Linked DNA regions of Homo sapiens: all the other regions are linked to region 1. A link means that fine-mapping ties the variant in region 1 to the plasma level of a protein whose gene starts in the linked region. Region 1 holds a variant in brackets. A gene starts in each other region. All regions are shown on their forward strands. Region 1 overlaps CYP26A1 (cytochrome P450 family 26 subfamily A member 1). Region 2 holds the start of TNN (tenascin N). Region 3 holds the start of CEACAM16 (CEA cell adhesion molecule 16, tectorial membrane component).

What was found. A credible set is the group of variants that fine-mapping cannot tell apart. PIP is the chance, under the fine-mapping model, that this variant and not a neighbour inherited with it causes the effect. Protein levels are from antibody-based Olink assays in UK Biobank. Linkage for the fine-mapping came from a reference panel and not from the study's own genotypes, which makes the PIPs less certain.
Region 2: TNN starts here. The variant in region 1 is the best candidate, but not a certain one, in a credible set for the plasma level of the TNN protein (UK Biobank, PIP 0.58).
Region 3: CEACAM16 starts here. The variant in region 1 is the best candidate, but not a certain one, in a credible set for the plasma level of the CEACAM16 protein (UK Biobank, PIP 0.51).

What each region holds. Positions count from the first base shown.
Region 1 is chr10:93,077,216-93,082,434 of GRCh38, forward strand. CYP26A1 (cytochrome P450 family 26 subfamily A member 1) reads left to right here. Exons shown (of 7, transcript NM_000783.4): 7 at 1-670. The coding sequence ends at 89. Among named protein-coding and RNA genes, the nearest start is that of CYP26A1, 5.9 kb to the left of the region's middle. The variant G/A (reference allele first, on the strand shown) is at 2,670.
Region 2 is chr1:175,064,619-175,069,840 of GRCh38, forward strand. It overlaps TNN (tenascin N), which reads left to right and starts at 3,215. Exons shown (of 19, transcript NM_022093.2): 1 at 3,215-3,317. RefSeq lists an enhancer at 2,536-3,735.
Region 3 is chr19:44,696,971-44,702,192 of GRCh38, forward strand. CEACAM16 (CEA cell adhesion molecule 16, tectorial membrane component) reads left to right here and starts at 2,181. Exons shown (of 7, transcript NM_001039213.4): 1 at 2,181-2,290; 2 at 4,391-4,523. The coding sequence starts at 4,487. It overlaps CEACAM16-AS1 (CEACAM16, CEACAM19 and PVR antisense RNA 1), which reads right to left. Exons shown (of 2, transcript NR_186815.1): 2 at 2,068-2,207. RefSeq lists an enhancer at 1-353.

The DNA of each region.
Region 1 (5,219 bases):
ATGGACCTCCTACAATGAAAACCAGTCCCACCGTGTATCCTGTGGACAATCTCCCTGCAAGATTCACCCATTTCCATGGGGAAATCTGATGAGCTTGAATGTTCAAACCTGAGACTTATTGGAAGTGTACATATGAGTTTTTAAGGAGTGTTGTGTTGACTTTATATTTAATTTCTAAATGTATATTATAATATTTATGTGTTTTGACTATACTACCACAATCTTTAAATATTAAAATAATGAATTTGTATCATTTCCAAATAAAGTAAAATTTGAAGGTACTTTTCTGGTATTTTAAGATTCCTGTTGGGTAAAACTCACCAGTTTAGTATTTTCTTAGTGTATTTAACCAGATTTTACAATGCCTACCTGGACTTATTTGTCATCTTTGCATCTGTTTTCTGTGAGAAGAAATCTTAGCTGTTTTTTATGTTAACAGTTATTAGAAAATATATGTCTGTGTGTGTTATTCCAGACGTATCTCTGTAAATTCTTCTACAGTCACTTAGATTCCCTATTTGGAAAATTGATCCAAGTTAATTTAATTTTTTTTTGGTTTGCTGTACTTTAGGGAAAGATGAACCTGAAAAGGTAACACTGAGAACTGTCACTCTAACCTCTCCAGCTTATCTAACATGTCATAAACATAATAAATCTGTGTTGTCCAATAGTGCCAGAACTGTTCTCTGAAGTTACGGTTTTAGATAAGACAAAGCCAGTCACTCCAGTTATGGACAGCTCTTGACTAAAATGAGACCAGAAATCATTGGCGTGTCACCTTTACTTAGAAGTTGCATATGGAAACAGTATTAGGAAAGGCGCATCTCTGGTTAAGATAAGCTGAGCCCAGGTTTTCTTTATTCAAAATGAGGCAGGAGGAGCAGATTTAGCAGACTGACAGATAAAGTTTTTATCTATCCCAGGCAATAGGGTGTGAGCCTGACATGACTGATAAAATGGCCCAGTCATGACCCTGTGAACCTTGGCTAACCTCCGTGAAAGCGCAGTTTTGTCACATTTCTGACCCTGGCATAGCCACAGTCTGAACTGAAGGCCAGACTCTCAATCCAGAAAGGTTAGCCCCAGTGACTTGCTTATGCAAGCACATTTTTGGTTTTGGAATGGCACAATCTGCTCACTGAACCTCTGATGACTTGTAGGTTTCAAACTTTACATTTTTCATTACAATTTTAGAATTTGGCAATACTGCAGAAACCAGGTGGTCTAAATAGGTGTTTGAAAAGTGTTCTGTCTACAGTTACATATTCTACCTGACTATAGTTTTTTAGGTAGAACTTGGGTTGTTCTTATTGTTGGACTGCTCTGAATTTTAAAGGATGTTTATGTAATAACTCATAATGCCGTTAAAAAATGAGACATTTCAGGCTATGTAGTTTCAGCCAAAGCTTTAGTGTACTATAGTGTGCAGAGATGACTCTTCTACCCCTAACATTTTTCCTGGACATTTCCAGCTAGGAGCATGCTAGACTGAGGGCATAATTATTTCAGATAATTTCTACAAAGGCATTTTTAAATTTTATTTTATTTATTTTTTGAGACAGAGTCTCACTGTGTCACCCAGGCTGGAGTGTAGTGGCACAATCTTGGCTCACTGCAACCTCCGCCTCCTGGGTTCAAGCGATTCACCTGCCTCAGCCTCCCGAGTAGCTGGGATTATATATGCACACCACCATGCCCGGCTAATTTTTATATTTTTGGTAGAGATAGGGGTTCCACCATGTTGGCCAGGGTGGTCTTGAACCCCTGACCTCAGGTGATCCACCCACCTTGGCCTCCCAGAGTGCTGGGATTACAGGCGTGAGCCACTGCACCCGGCACAAAGCCATTTTAAAACAGCTTTTTTTTTTTTTTTGAAACAGCCTTGCCCTGTAGCCCAGGCTGGAGTGTAGTGGTACAATCTCAGCTCACTGCAACCTCCACCTTCCGGGTTCAAGTGATTCTTGTGCCTCAGCCACTTGAGTAGCTGACACTACAGGCGCATGGCACCATGCCTGGCTAATTTTTGTATTTTGGGTAGAGATGGGGTTCTACCACATTGGCCAGGCTGGTCTCGAACTCCTGACCTCAAGTGATTCATCCGCCTTGGCCTCCCAAAGTGCTGGGATTACAGGCATGAGCCACTGTGCCCCATCTAAAAGAGTTTTAATACTTTTCATTCTTCTGGAGGACAGCTGGCCTTTAAAACACTATCTTCGCTGACTTAGTGGCTCTGTTTCTCTGCGAATGTAGTGCAGTCGGAAATCTGAGCCATCTTAACATATCATTCATTTTTTAATCTGGGGAGCTTCGAGGAAAGTGCTTCTGGTTTGCATTTCCCAGGGCTAGATTTAGCCCAATTATCCTGATCAGTTACAGAGTAGCAAAGAATTCATCTTGAAAATACGTTAAAAACACAATCTTTGATCATGTGCTTTGTGCAGAGGAAAGGCAGTCTGGAAGCATGTGAGCAAGGCTGCTGTCTTGGACAATGGGCCTGGGTCACATCTCTCTGGGTCAAGTATGTTTTATGGCACAGTCACCTCTGGGCTGGTGTCCACGTGATGGAGAAATGATGTAGATTTGGCCAAAACTGTGGAAGGAGGGGACATGACCCCTCTTGGACTCACTCTGGAAAATGACCCTTCGGGCTCCTAGCAGCATGGTGTAGC[G/A]ATAGGGGTGCTGTGCTGTCCAGGGCTGCTGCGGGTGGGCGACCAAGCTGGTGCCCTCTGCTTCCCCTTGCGCAATGCCCTTGGCCCTTGCTGCCTCCCATGTTCTCTTCAATCAGGACTGTGTTGCCACCAACCACAGACCACTGTCAGGACTGAGATGTGAAAGCCTGAGGCTTCAGCATTCAGAGGGATTGGAGCCTTTACCTAGCAAGGTCCTTGGAGGCCCAGAGACAGACTGTAGTTTTCCTGGGGCCACACAGGGAGTGGCAGAACCAGGAAAGACCTCCAGATGCCATTTTTTTTCTTTCTTTTTTTAAACAGCTAATAACACTTGCCCGATTTCTAACTCGCTGTTGCCAGACATAATCCAGGGGTCTCAACTTCCTAGCTTCCTTTTATGTCCCCTGCTACCACTCCCGTGCCAGCACAGATCAATTCTCTTGCAGGTCCCCAGAGGTGGTTGGTGAAATGGGAGCGCTGAGAGGAGGTGGCTGCTCCCCGAGACTCCCTGTCTCCGGTTGGGGTTTCAGTGCTTTTTGCACCCTGTTACTCTCCAGAGATCCACAAGGGGGCGGGCTTCTCCCTTCTATGCCAGGCTCAGAGGCCAGTGGTTTTCCCCACCAGTGTCCACGAATTCCAGTGTACAAGACTCTGGCCCAGGGCTTGCTTTTACCCCGGACAGTGAGAAGCTACAGGCCACCCAGGGCTTAGCAAGTACTTAGCACCAGGTCTGGTCAAGGCTGCCTGGCCCCTCTGGAAGGGGTCATCCCAGGCTGGGCTGACCTGCGCGTCTTTCAGTTCCTGAAGCAGCCGCCAACCCTTGGTGGTCTATGGGGTCAGCGGCCCAGGTTTCCAGCATTGCCCCCACACTGCCCACGTGTGGCTTATGTTGCTTTCACTCTACCTGGAAAATCGCTGTCAGTTTTGAGGGAGCAGGGAGCACAGTTTCCAAAGAACGCGGGCAAACTAATCAGCCTTCGGATGACCGCAACCAGGTGCGGGAGCCACCGCACAAAAGCACCTAGGGAGGAACGAGGGACGTATAGGGAGGTTGCGGTGGCTCCTTTAGACAGTCAAAGGGCTGCTGTAGTAAACACAGGTTCAGACCCGTTCTGAGGGACAGAGCATGCTCTTAGGAGGGTAAAGTAGGAGAGAGATGCTGGCGCCATGTAAGGAAAACATTCTGAGACAACTCCAGCCCTTTGGTGATGAAACAGGCTACCTTGTGAGAGGGAGAGAGTGAGCTCTCTGTCAACAGAGGCAGCCAAATACAAAGCTGGATACCTAAGCCGCCACAGAGATCAAGACATGGAGGGTGAGCTTGGGTTAGATGACCCCCCATCCCCCTTCCAAAATTAAACAGTTGTGAATCTCCGAAATGTGATTCTGTATTAATTCAGTTCCTCAGATACCCACTTTGAAATGCCTGGGGCTGTGGAGATGGGACATCCCCACGTCCTATTCCAGAGGCATTCAGCAGTCTTTGGTGATCATTCTCCCAAACCTCAGAGGCAGATGTGGAAGTGGGAGCCCAGATATGTGACCTCAGAAAGGCACCAAGTGCCCTGTGTTGACTGCCCAGGGACCTCTCCCCTGCCCTGTGACTTGGTGTTTCCTGCTCCAGGTCCTGTGTCTGCTCCAACCACCCCTAGTTCCCCCAACCTGCCCATGCTGACCATTCGCTTGACCTGGCCTCTGGGGTCACATCCTGCTTCCTTCCCCAGTCCTCCCCGGGTCCCCATAATCCCATGCACTGACATTGTCCTCTACCCATCCCAGCTGTCCTTTGTCTCCACCTCCTGAAATGTGCTGGGAGGCAGGAACTGTGTCTCATTGTTCTAATCTTATACATTTAGTCCATTTTCACATACCTCTCCAGCCTCCCCTGGAATGTACATGTAGTAGGTGTTCTCTGGAAGAAATACTTCTTGGGGCCAATTGACACCATTTACCTTATGTTTCTCCAGCTTACATGGTGCCATGTTTTTCTTTGAAAAGTGAAACTTTCATCCTTGAAAAATCTCAGCGGCCGCAAGCATACACGGCTGTGGTTTAACAGCATGTCACATTCCTGAAACCGACGCTCCACGGGTATTTGACCAAACAAGCTTTCCTTCCTTTGAAGTAGAGTCAACTCGAGTTAGAACCCTGAGACAGGGATGAAGATTCAGCCTGGGACTGCATGGTGGGTTTTCTGGGTGAGACATATCATGTTGCAATATTCATAACCACGCACCCTCAGCACAGAAGCTGCCCCACACTGTAAGATTTCTCACTGCTGCTGAGCCCTCCCTGGTACGTTGAGGAGTTAGAAACCTGTTCACGCCTTTAGGATGGTAGATGCTTCAGGATTTTTGTTTGTTTGTTTTGTTTTGTTTTTTTTGAGATGGAGTCTCACTCTGTCGCCAGGCTGGAGTGCAGTGGCACGATCTCAGCTCACAGCAACCTCCACCTCCCAGGTTCAAGCGATTCTCCTGCCTCAACCTCCCCAGTAGCTGGGACTACAGGGACGCTCCACCACGCCCAGCTAATTTTTGTATTTTTAGTAGA
Region 2 (5,222 bases), not on the chromosome of region 1:
TCAACCCCTATTCTTTCTTCCTTTCTTTACTCACAGAGCTCCTGAGGTTTAGTTGAACACAACCACTGTGCCAGCCTCTCCGGCAGCTGTATGTGCACATTGGCTAAATTCTGGCCAATGGGATGCAGAAGAAGTGATGTGTTCCTTTTCTAGCGTTATCCAAAATGTGCATCATTCTCCAATAGAAAGAAATAAAGATATTTGGAGAAATGGCTGCTTCTAAAGGACTGGGTAGGAGAAGTGCAAGATCAGTCTGGAATATCTTGCTGTGCCAAAAGTAAGGAAACACTCAAAGAATGATGGAAGTGTGTTAAAAGCACACAGTAACCAGCCTGAAGGGTTCACCCTGGCCAAATCTGGGGCAATTTGAGCAACAAAATAATGATAGTACAGGAATATAACCCATAGAATGAAAAAAAGAATATGAGTCACTTTGAATATAAGGTGATTAATAAAATAAAGGTGGGGGAAGAAAAATTACTTTTTATAATAGAATTCTATCTAGTAAACATAAAAAGAAAGATGAAATTAGGAAAATCGCCATTTGGCAGCCAGCATAGTAGTAATTGTTCCAGGCAAGAATCAACAATGGGTGTTAAAACTAGTGAGTGAAAATATAAAAAGAAGCAGAATATTTACATGGTTTAAAAACATCATCCCACAATATACCTGTTAAATAAAAAAGGGCAAATATTTACTGTGGAGAAACCTGGCAGATATCACCCTAACCAAGTGGTCCAAGGTAACATCACCAACACTGGGACAGACTGCCATCAAGTGTCTCCTGATGTGATGGACCAAAGACACGCCGCTTCTGCCGCTGCCTGCCAAAAACGTATGGCCTAAATCTAGGCATGAAAAAATACCACACAAATGCAAACTGAGGACATTCTTTAAAATAACTGACGTTTTCTCTTCAAAAATGTTAAGGTCATGAAAGATAAAGATTGAAGAACTATTCCAACTTAAGGAAATTTTAAAGACAGGACAACTAAATGCAATTAATTATCCTGAATTGAATCCTGGGTCTGTAAATTATTTTTCTTTTGCTATAAAAGACATTAGAGAAACAATCAATGGAATTTGAATATCGTCTGTAAATTAGACAATAGTATTATGTCAATGTCAATTTCTGATTTTGATCATTGTATTGAGGTTATGAGAGAGTATGCCCTTGTTGTTGGGAAACACCCTATACTAAAGTTTTTAGACATAAATGGGTAAAGAGATAAATCATGTCTTTAATTTGCTCTCAAATGTTTTCAGGGAAAACTATTAAGAGAGAATGAATGATTGGCAAATATGACAAAATGTTAACACTTGGAGAATATGAGTGAAGGGTATACAGGGATTCTTTTAATATTTTTGCAATTTTTCTGCAAGTCTGAAATAATTATAAAATAAAAAGTTTTTGTTTTTGTGTTTGTAAGGAATGAGCACGCACTTCCATCTGCCCTCATCCCTTTACCCTTCCTGTTGGCTGGGAGATGATGACCCTAGAGAGTGGTGGGTGTGTGCTGTGGATGGTGGCACTGCCCTACCAGCCCTGGGCCACTGTCTTCTACTGTTTGGGGAGAAATCATCTATGTTGTTAAGTCACTGCATTGGAGGGTCTCTTTGCTACAGCTCCATGTCCTGCAACTAACTAATACCAGCTGTAATAAGGAGAGATTGGAGGAAGGTGGCTTCTTAGGAGCCTGGTGCACTGGTTTAGTTATTCCTATTGAGGGCATGGAAAATGGGGTCACGGAGAGAGTTGGTGAAGACCACTCATTTGGGGAGAGTTAGTGAAAGGAAATTAAGAATAGGAGAGCAACTTGAGGGCGCAATAGAGTCTTAGGATCCTCTGGGAGAGATTTTCCCTTTTAAGAAGCAGAGAAAATAGTCCAAGGGAGAAAAGAGATGTTTGGGAGTTGGGAAATTTTCTGGTGACCCTGGTTCCTACTGCACTGGTCACCTCTGTATATGGCTGGCCCAGATTCCAGGGCCAGATAGCAGGATTATTTGTGGTTGTAAGTGAAGGGCAGAGAACTATGAACCTACCTGGACTGAGGTGGAGAGGATCAAATATGATTTAGTGGGATACATAAGGAGAATTAAAAAGTTATAATAATCATGGTAGCAGGTAATCTTTACCAAGTCCTCATTGTGTCTTGGGACTAGTCTAAGTTCTTTACCCCATCTACTCATTTGAACCTCACAATAACCATAAGACACTATTCCTATTTTACAGACGAGTAAGCTGAGCCACAAAGAAGTTGTCAAAGGTCATTTGCAAGTAGCAGACACAAGCTTCAGATCCAGGCAAGCTGCCTCTGGGAACCCCCCTCCAATTTCTGGGGGCCACTTTTTGGTCCCCCGTCTCTCCTTCTCCTTTCCCTCCAGCAGCATTTGATGCTGACATAGGTGAACTGGAAACATATGGTCTCCTTCATTTTGTTGTGGATCTGCACTCCAGAATCTACTTCCCACAGAGCAGGAGAGGGATGGGGTGTAAGGAAGGGTGGCAGGTGTCAGCCCATGCCCTATTGAAATGACTCTGGTTCATAGGAAGGATGAAGGCCTGTCCATCTGAGGGCAAAAGAGGAAGGGCAGCCAGAAAGGGGCACGACTATTCTTTCCTGATTTTGGAGCTCTTGTACTGTTGGCGTGTGGGAGGCATTTGGGATGGGGTGAGGGTCAGAGTGGGCTTGTGGGACCGAATGTCCCCAGTCTGTTATTCCTGCCCCCACTTCAGAGTCCTGCCACTCACAAGTGTGAGACGATGGATGAAGGAGGAGGGAAGTCAGAAGAGCTTCTGTCCCTGAGGGTCTCTGCTCATTTCTTTCTGTGCTAAAGGCTTTTTCCCATTTTAAAAGCAGTAGGCAGGAAGTCCCAGAATGCCTGAAACAGGAAAAAGAGAAAGAAACTTTATAAATGCACTTTTGAACCCCGAGACCCAGCTCCTGGCCAGGAGACAGGCAAACTCTTTTAATATCCTTATTCTGGATTCACTTAAATGGAAACAGCCTCCAGTATTTTTAGCTGCTGTGTAATCAAAGTGAAAAAGAAGAAGGAAATGTATATATTTTTCTTTCCTAGTTAGAATAAGAGAAGGAATTGCTCATTATCTTTTAGCAGAGTCCCTGCTAGGAAGGGAGGAAAACACCAGGAGTCTCCATTTGCTCCTCCTCTGGCCTAGACAGGATTTAAACCCAGGAAGGGAAGCCAAGGAGAGACGAGAACCAGGGACGACCAGCAAGTACCAAGGTCTGCGGCAGGAGGAGACCGGCTCACAGGAGCAGCAGCATTGGAAGAGGCACCCAGCAGCCTCCCAGGTAAGAGTGCCAGTTGCCCAAGCTTTACTTACTGGAGGGAGGGAGGTGGCCAATGCAGATGAGCTCAAAAGTGGTGGCTCAGGTGCCTCCGTTCCCGAGCCTGAAAATCCGGGCAGTGTAATTAGTCTCCTATCACCTCCATGAAGAGTTAAAATGAATTGGGAAGTACCTCTCAGGACCCGTGTACTGCATCCTTAGTATTATACTCCAGTCTCAGACAGGGCTAAGCATAGTTATCCTCTTTCCTGCAACACAGATGCGTCTGTGTTGTATCAGCTTCTACCTGGCGTAACACATTTTTGTATAAAATGTTTCCTTTAAGATGTTCCTTCTCATTTTTTTTTCTTTTTAACTTACTTACAATGTCAAAGCTTTCTCTCTCTCTGTCTTTTTTTGGATAATTTAGTATTGTTGTATTTCATTATTCTTTTAAATCCTAAAACAGAATTGTTATTTTAGTTATGATTAGGAAGCTATGATAACTTTCCCTTTGTCTGGATTTTGTGTGAATCAGTTAAGGGGATGTTTGCAAACACATTTGAACAGCTTTGAAGTATCTCCAGACATTTAATTTTACAGGTTTTAATTATTATTTGTTAAGACGACAACTTCTCTCGAAATCCCCATACTATTACCCTCACAATACCTCAAAGAAAACATTTCAAGACATCTAAAAAAATGATGTGGTTGGCCGGGCATGGTGGCTCATGCCTGTAATCCCAGCACTTTGAGAGGCTGAGGCAGGTGGATCACCTGAGGTCGAGAGTTCGAGACCAGCCTGACCAACATGGAGAAACTCCGTCTCTACTAAAAATACAAAAAATTAGCCGGGCGTGGTGGCGCATGCCTATAATCCCAGCTACTTGGGAGGCTGAGGCAGGAGAATTGCTTGAACCTGGGAGGTGGAGGTTGCGGTGAGCCGAGATTGAACCATTGCACTCCAGCCTGGGCAACAAGAGCAAAACTCCATCTAAAAAACAAAAACAAAACAAAGCAAACAAACAAAAAAAACTAGTTTTTGGAGGTCTTACTTTTTACTTATTTATTAATTTTTGTGCTTGGGAGAGATCTGGGGGAAGGATGGAGAAAGAATGAATGAGAACAGGCAGGGCTTCACTTAAAAGCATGAAACCTGTGTTGCTTATATAAGCATTAAAAAAAAGAACAAGTTCCAACATAAAAGTAACAAACTGCCCACATTGGGACACAGGTTAGCCACAGTGCCTAAAATCCACTGGTTCTTGGAAAAGCTGAGGTGTCACCAAGGCATCAGATGATACCTTGCTCGGTCAGGGCTACGTATTGGCAGCTGGCCTCTTGACATTCAGACATTTGTTGCAGACTCAGAATCAAGGTGACAGTGTCAGACACAGGAAAAAATAGAGTATCAATACTGGTATCATTTTTCCAGGAGAGAAGGGAAGAAGGCACCTGGCATTCTTTCATACAACTCTAAGTACTGCTTTGTCCCCAGTTTATAGGCTGCAGCTGACTCCCGAAGGAGGGAAAATAGAACAAATGATTTCAAATCATCCCGTGGCTTCTGGTTTTCCAGTCCAGTGCTGCTCTGTGGTTTGAAATGTAGGGTGGGCAGAGCTCTCTTTCTGAGAAGATGCCTGAGGAAATTGTGCCCAGGCCCAGTGGAAACTTTTGTCCATTCACTGCTCATTCCAGAGCCTTGGCTCCTATAGGATCTGGATACAGACATGAGATCATGGTTTAGGTCCTGTAGCCACATCTGGAGCCACCAGTCTGTGAGCAGAAGTTGCTAAGATCTCAGGCCTGATCTCTGGATGGACAGGGACTTTGCTGCTTCTGCCACAGTGGACTCACTGCTAATGCTGCCCAGCCACCATTTGAATCTGTACCCAGCGAGTGTGAGTGGAACAGTGCAAATGCTTGGAA
Region 3 (5,222 bases), not on the chromosome of region 1:
CTTGCTGCCCTGCATAAACCAGTGCCCCGACCACCTCCATCCCTTCCCCTGCTTTATTTTTCTCCACAGCATTGTCCCCACCTGTTCTAACACTGCTCATGTTTGTATTCGTCTATTAACTGTCTCCCCAATCAATAGGTCAGCTCTGTGTCTACCGTATTCACGGCTGTAACCCCACAGCGCCTAGCGCAGTGCCCGGCACATAGTTGGTGCTCCATAAACATTTGTCAAATGGTGGAGGAACAACGACCACTGTGCCCCCAGTACGTGCTCTGAGGCAGGCCCGGCACGGAACACTCCATGTGCCTATTTTGATCCTCAGAAGAGTCCCAGGGAAGTCAATGTCATGAACACCCCCCACCCACTGCACAAACAGGAAAAAGCCCCTGCCCACAAGAACCCCGTCTGCTTTCTGCGCAGCCCGGCGGCGCACAGCAGGTGCTAAAGAGCCTGCAGCTCTTGACTGAACCAAGGATCTGGGCTCACAGCCGGGAGCACCAGAGGAGGGGCCAGGGAGGTGGAGGATGGGGGCAGACTAGGAAGGGTGGATGTGACGATAGAGGGCCTCTAGAGCCCGGCCTGGTCACACTCCGCAGGCAGACAGCAGATCACCAGGAACCTGAGCCTCTCTGAAGACTCCTCTCTCTGTGTCATCCACACCTGGTGTCCAGTTCCACAAACATGCTGTGAGCCTCTGCTCTGTGCCAGGTGATTTGCTGGGCAGTGCTGGGGACACAGTGGTGACAGCCCAGCCGTGCCCAGCTGAGGCTCCCAGGCCAGTGGGGGAAAAAGACCCAGCCCCAGACAGCGAGAACCCAAGGCAGTCAGGGCTGAGACAGGGAATTCCAGGCCCTGAAGTCCAGGAGGGCTTCCTGGAGGAGAGGGTTTGGGGAAGGCAGTGGAATAGAGCAGAGGGAAGCAGGGATATTCTGGGTAGAGTGCAAGTGAAACAGAAGAACTGAAGCAGAGGGTTCCCGGAAGCAAGTGGTATTCTATGTAGCTGGTCAGGTGGGCAGGAGTCAGGCCGGGCAGGGCCTCCTGGGCTACAGTGAGGAACCTGGGCTTCCTCCCAAGGGCACTGGGGAGCCACAGCAGGTTCTGAGCACGGAGGGGCAGAGGCAGGTTTTTGTTTTGGAAAGAGCCTCTGTCTGCCATGTGGAGGGGCAATGGGAGTCGGGGAGACCAGGGCCAGAGACTAGGGAGGAGGCTGGTGGGGAGACAGGAGGACCCAGGCAAGGTGGGGTGGTGGAGTGGTCACCTAGACCAGGGCAGGGGCTTCAGGGAGGGAGAGAAGATATACGTAGAGTCAGTTGCCAGAAGGGGTGGCGTGTTCGGGGAGTAGGGGGAGGCATCAGGGATGAGGCCCCAGGTCTCTTTTCCCAGCGATGAGGTGGGTAGTGGCGCCTTCCCTGATAAGGGCACCAGGGGAAGATACACTTCTGGGGGAAGATGCCAAGGTCAGTTTGGGACAAGGTGAGTGAGAGGTGCCCAGGGACATCAGGGAGGCATCCTGATTGATACTGGGATGAGGTCCCAGTGCTCTGGGCCAGGACGCAGAAGAGTGAGGTGAGGTCACAGGTGGGGAGAGGGGAGCAGGAGGCGCCAGGACATCCTCTGTGCCTCTCACCTGGCCTCACCCGCACCTCCTCAGGGCCTTCTCCCCCTTGTTAGAGCCCTGCCCCACGAGGGCAGCCCAGGACACAGTGCTGGAGGCAAACCAGGACAGGTGAGCACAGGTGTGGCCCCCTGCCCGGAAGCAGGCTGCAGAGGCCTCAGAGGAACCAGGACTCAGAAGCCATCAGGATGCAGGTCATAAGAACACAGCTATCAGCAGCTCTGGCACCACAACCCCCTCGGCTCCTGCCCAGCATCATCTCAGAGACACCTTCCCTGTTACCCTCCCTCCACCCCAATTTAAAGTAGCAAACCAGGCCAGGGGCAGTGGCTCATGGCTGTAATCCCAGCACTTTGGGAGGCCAAGGTGGGAAGATCACTTGAGGCCAAGAGTTTGAGACCAGGCAGAGCAACATAGCGAGATCCCATCTCTACAAAAAATAAAATGGCAAATCCCCTTTCTGACTTTATTTTTCAATCTGACGTGGAAGATATTTACCTTTCCTTTATTTACTCCGCAAATGTCGGCCCCCTGAGGGCAGGGATTTCATCCGTCTTGTGCACGGCTGCATCCTCAGCGCCTAGAACAGCACCTGGCAAACAATAGGTGCTCATTCAGTATTTGTCCAATAAGTGAATGAGTGATTTACTGAGCATTTACTCTGCGCCAGTCGTGGTAAGTACTGTACTTCACATGTGTATCTACTTAATCCTTTCAACAGCCCTGTGATGTGAGTACTATTGTTTTCCCTATTTTACAAATAAGGAAACTGAGGCTTGGCAGAGTCCATAAATTGCCCAGGGTCCTGGAGGTAGGAAACAGTGGAACTATGTCCAGAGCCTATACTTTTTTTTTTTTGAGATGGAGTTTCACTCTTTTGCCCAGGGTTCAAGCAATTCTCCTGCTTCAGCCTCCCAAGTAGCTGGGATTACAGGTGCCCGCGACCACACCCAGCTAATTTTTGTATTTTTAGTAGAGACAGGGTTTCACCATGCTGGCCAGGCTGGTCTTGAACTCCTGACCTCAGTTGATCCACCCACCTCGGCCTCCCAAAGTGCTAGGACTACAGGCATGAGCCACTGCGTCCGGCCATGAGCCACCACGCCCGGCCAGAGCCTATACTTTTAATAACAGGCATACCAATCAGACCCACGTCCACCAGGCTCTGGCTTAAATCCCTGACTTGTAGCCTCTCACTAACTGCTGTCAACAAACCTGAAGTAGGGTCCATATCATCTCTATTTTTTTGTTTGTTTTTGAAATGGAGTCTTGCTCTGTCACCCAGGCTGGAGTGCAGTGGCAGGATCTCGGCTCACTGCAACCTCTACCTCCTGGATTCAAGCGATTCTCCTACCTCAGCCTCCCTAGTAGCTGGGATTACAGGCATGTGCCACCATGACCGGCTAACTTTTATTTTTTGTTTTTGCTTTTGTTTTTTGAGATAGAGTCTCACTCTGTCACCCAGGCTGGAGTGCAGTGGTGTGATCTCAGCTCGCTGCAACCTCCACCTCCTGGGTTCAAGAGATTCTCCTGCCTCAGCCTCTCGAGTAGCTGGGACTACAGGTGCACACCACCACACCCAGCTAATTTTTTATATTTTTAGTACATACGAGGTTTCACCATATTGGCCAGGCTGGTCTCGAACTCCTGACCTCGTGAGCCACCTGCCTTGGCCTCCCAAAGTGTTGGGATTACAGGCGTTAGCCACCACACCCAGCTAACTTATATTTTTAATAGAGACGGGGTTTCGCCATGTTGGTCAGGCTGGTTGCAAACTCCTCACCTCAGGTGATCTGCCCATCTCAGCCTCCCAAAGTGCTGGGACTACAGGCACCTGCCACCACGCCTGGCTATTTTTATTATTATTATTTTTAGTAGAGATGGGGTTTCGCCATGTTGGCCAGGCTGATCTCGAACTCCTGACCTCAAATGATCCGCCTGCCTTGGCCTCCCGAAGTGCTGGGATGACAGGCATGAGCCAGTGCACCCGGCCATCATCTCTATTTATCAGAATAATAAATGGAGACTCAACAAGGGACTGTCCCCAGCCCCACTTTGGGTAAGTGCAGAGCTGGTGTCAAAACTCAGCTCTCCTTGGCCCCAAAGCCTCCGAATACGCCCATTTGACAGAGAGGGGAAAACAAGGCCTCCGAAGTGGGAGAAAGAGAATGTGAACTTCTGAGCACTTTGCAGGAAGCCAACAAGAAGGAGAGCCCCAAAGAAAGCATGTGGCCATACAGTTTCCTGCCCTTCTGTCTGGGTTTGCACACAGAGCAGGGCTCAAATCCCCTCTCCCTGCAGGAACCCGGACAAGTGGGAGTCCCCACCTAGCTCATCTCCATCTGCAAAGGGGGGTCCTAAAGGTGCCCACTTTACAGGGTTGTTTTGCCATCCGCTGAGACAACACCTGTAGGTCCCCTGCACTGGGTGGGGCTGGGAAAGGTGCAGTCACCTTTTACTGATTTTCTTCCTTGGTGACTCCCAGGCTCTCTGAGGAGGCCACGGGCCTGGGTGGTTGGTAAGAACTACCCGAAAACCTTCCCCTACTTTTCCTCTCTTCTCCTCGGTGACCTGGTTCCTCTCCCAGTACCAAATCCAGGCCCTCGGCACAAAGAGGGTTAGGCGGCTGCCCCAGGAGGCCTGCCCAGGTCACGGCCTCTGGCCGGTGCCCGCCACACCCACCCTGGTACCCAAACCGGGCCCCAGATCCTTGGTGACTCGATCCCTCCAAATTCAGGTGATCTCCCCTGGCTCCAAATCACCAAACCCTCCCAGGTCCTGCGGCAGACGGAGCCGAGCCCCAACCAGGAAGGGAGTCCGAGCACTGGGACTTCAACGCCACCATCTCCAAGACTCGGTTTGGGGTGAAAGATGGCGCTGACTGGGTACAGCTGGCTGCTCCTCAGTGGTGAGCGAGAATGGCACCCCCCAGCACCTCAGCCCCCCGAGGACCCCAGGGAGGGGAGGGGACCCCCAGTCTGAGAGAGGGAAGGTGTGAGCAGAAGTCCAGCGTGCTAGGGAGGGAGGGCAGCCCTGCTTCACACCGGCAGTTTACCCCTCCAAGAGGCATCTGCATTGGGCAGGCTGGGGACAGCCACCCAGAGAGGTTTTCAGGGTGGGCTTTGGAGATTTCTAAGCCCAGGGCACAAGCCAGGACAAGGGAGCCGCTGTTGCTCCTTCATTCCTGCAGGTTTCTGTTTTATCAGCTATGGAAGCCTTGATGAGGCTAAACTCTTCCCAGCAGCTGTTTCTCCCGGAAGATGTAGCTTAGGGCAGTTGCCTTTCCCTTCTCAGCCTCTGTGTACCCACCTGTGAATGGGGCCTCACTGACAGGGTCATGTAAAGGTCATTATAAGCAGCACCACATATGCCGTGTGCCCGGAGCTGTTCTGAGAGCTTCTCATGGTTTAAAACCACCTATGAGGGGCCGGGCAAGGTGGCTCACACCACTAATCCCAGCACTTTGGGAGGCCGAGGCGGGCGGATCACCTGAGGTCAGGAGTTCAAGACCAGCCTGGTTAACATAGTAAAACCCCATCTCTACTAAAATACAAAAAATTAGCTAGGTGTGGTGGCACATGCCTGTAGTCCCAGCTGCTCGGGAGGC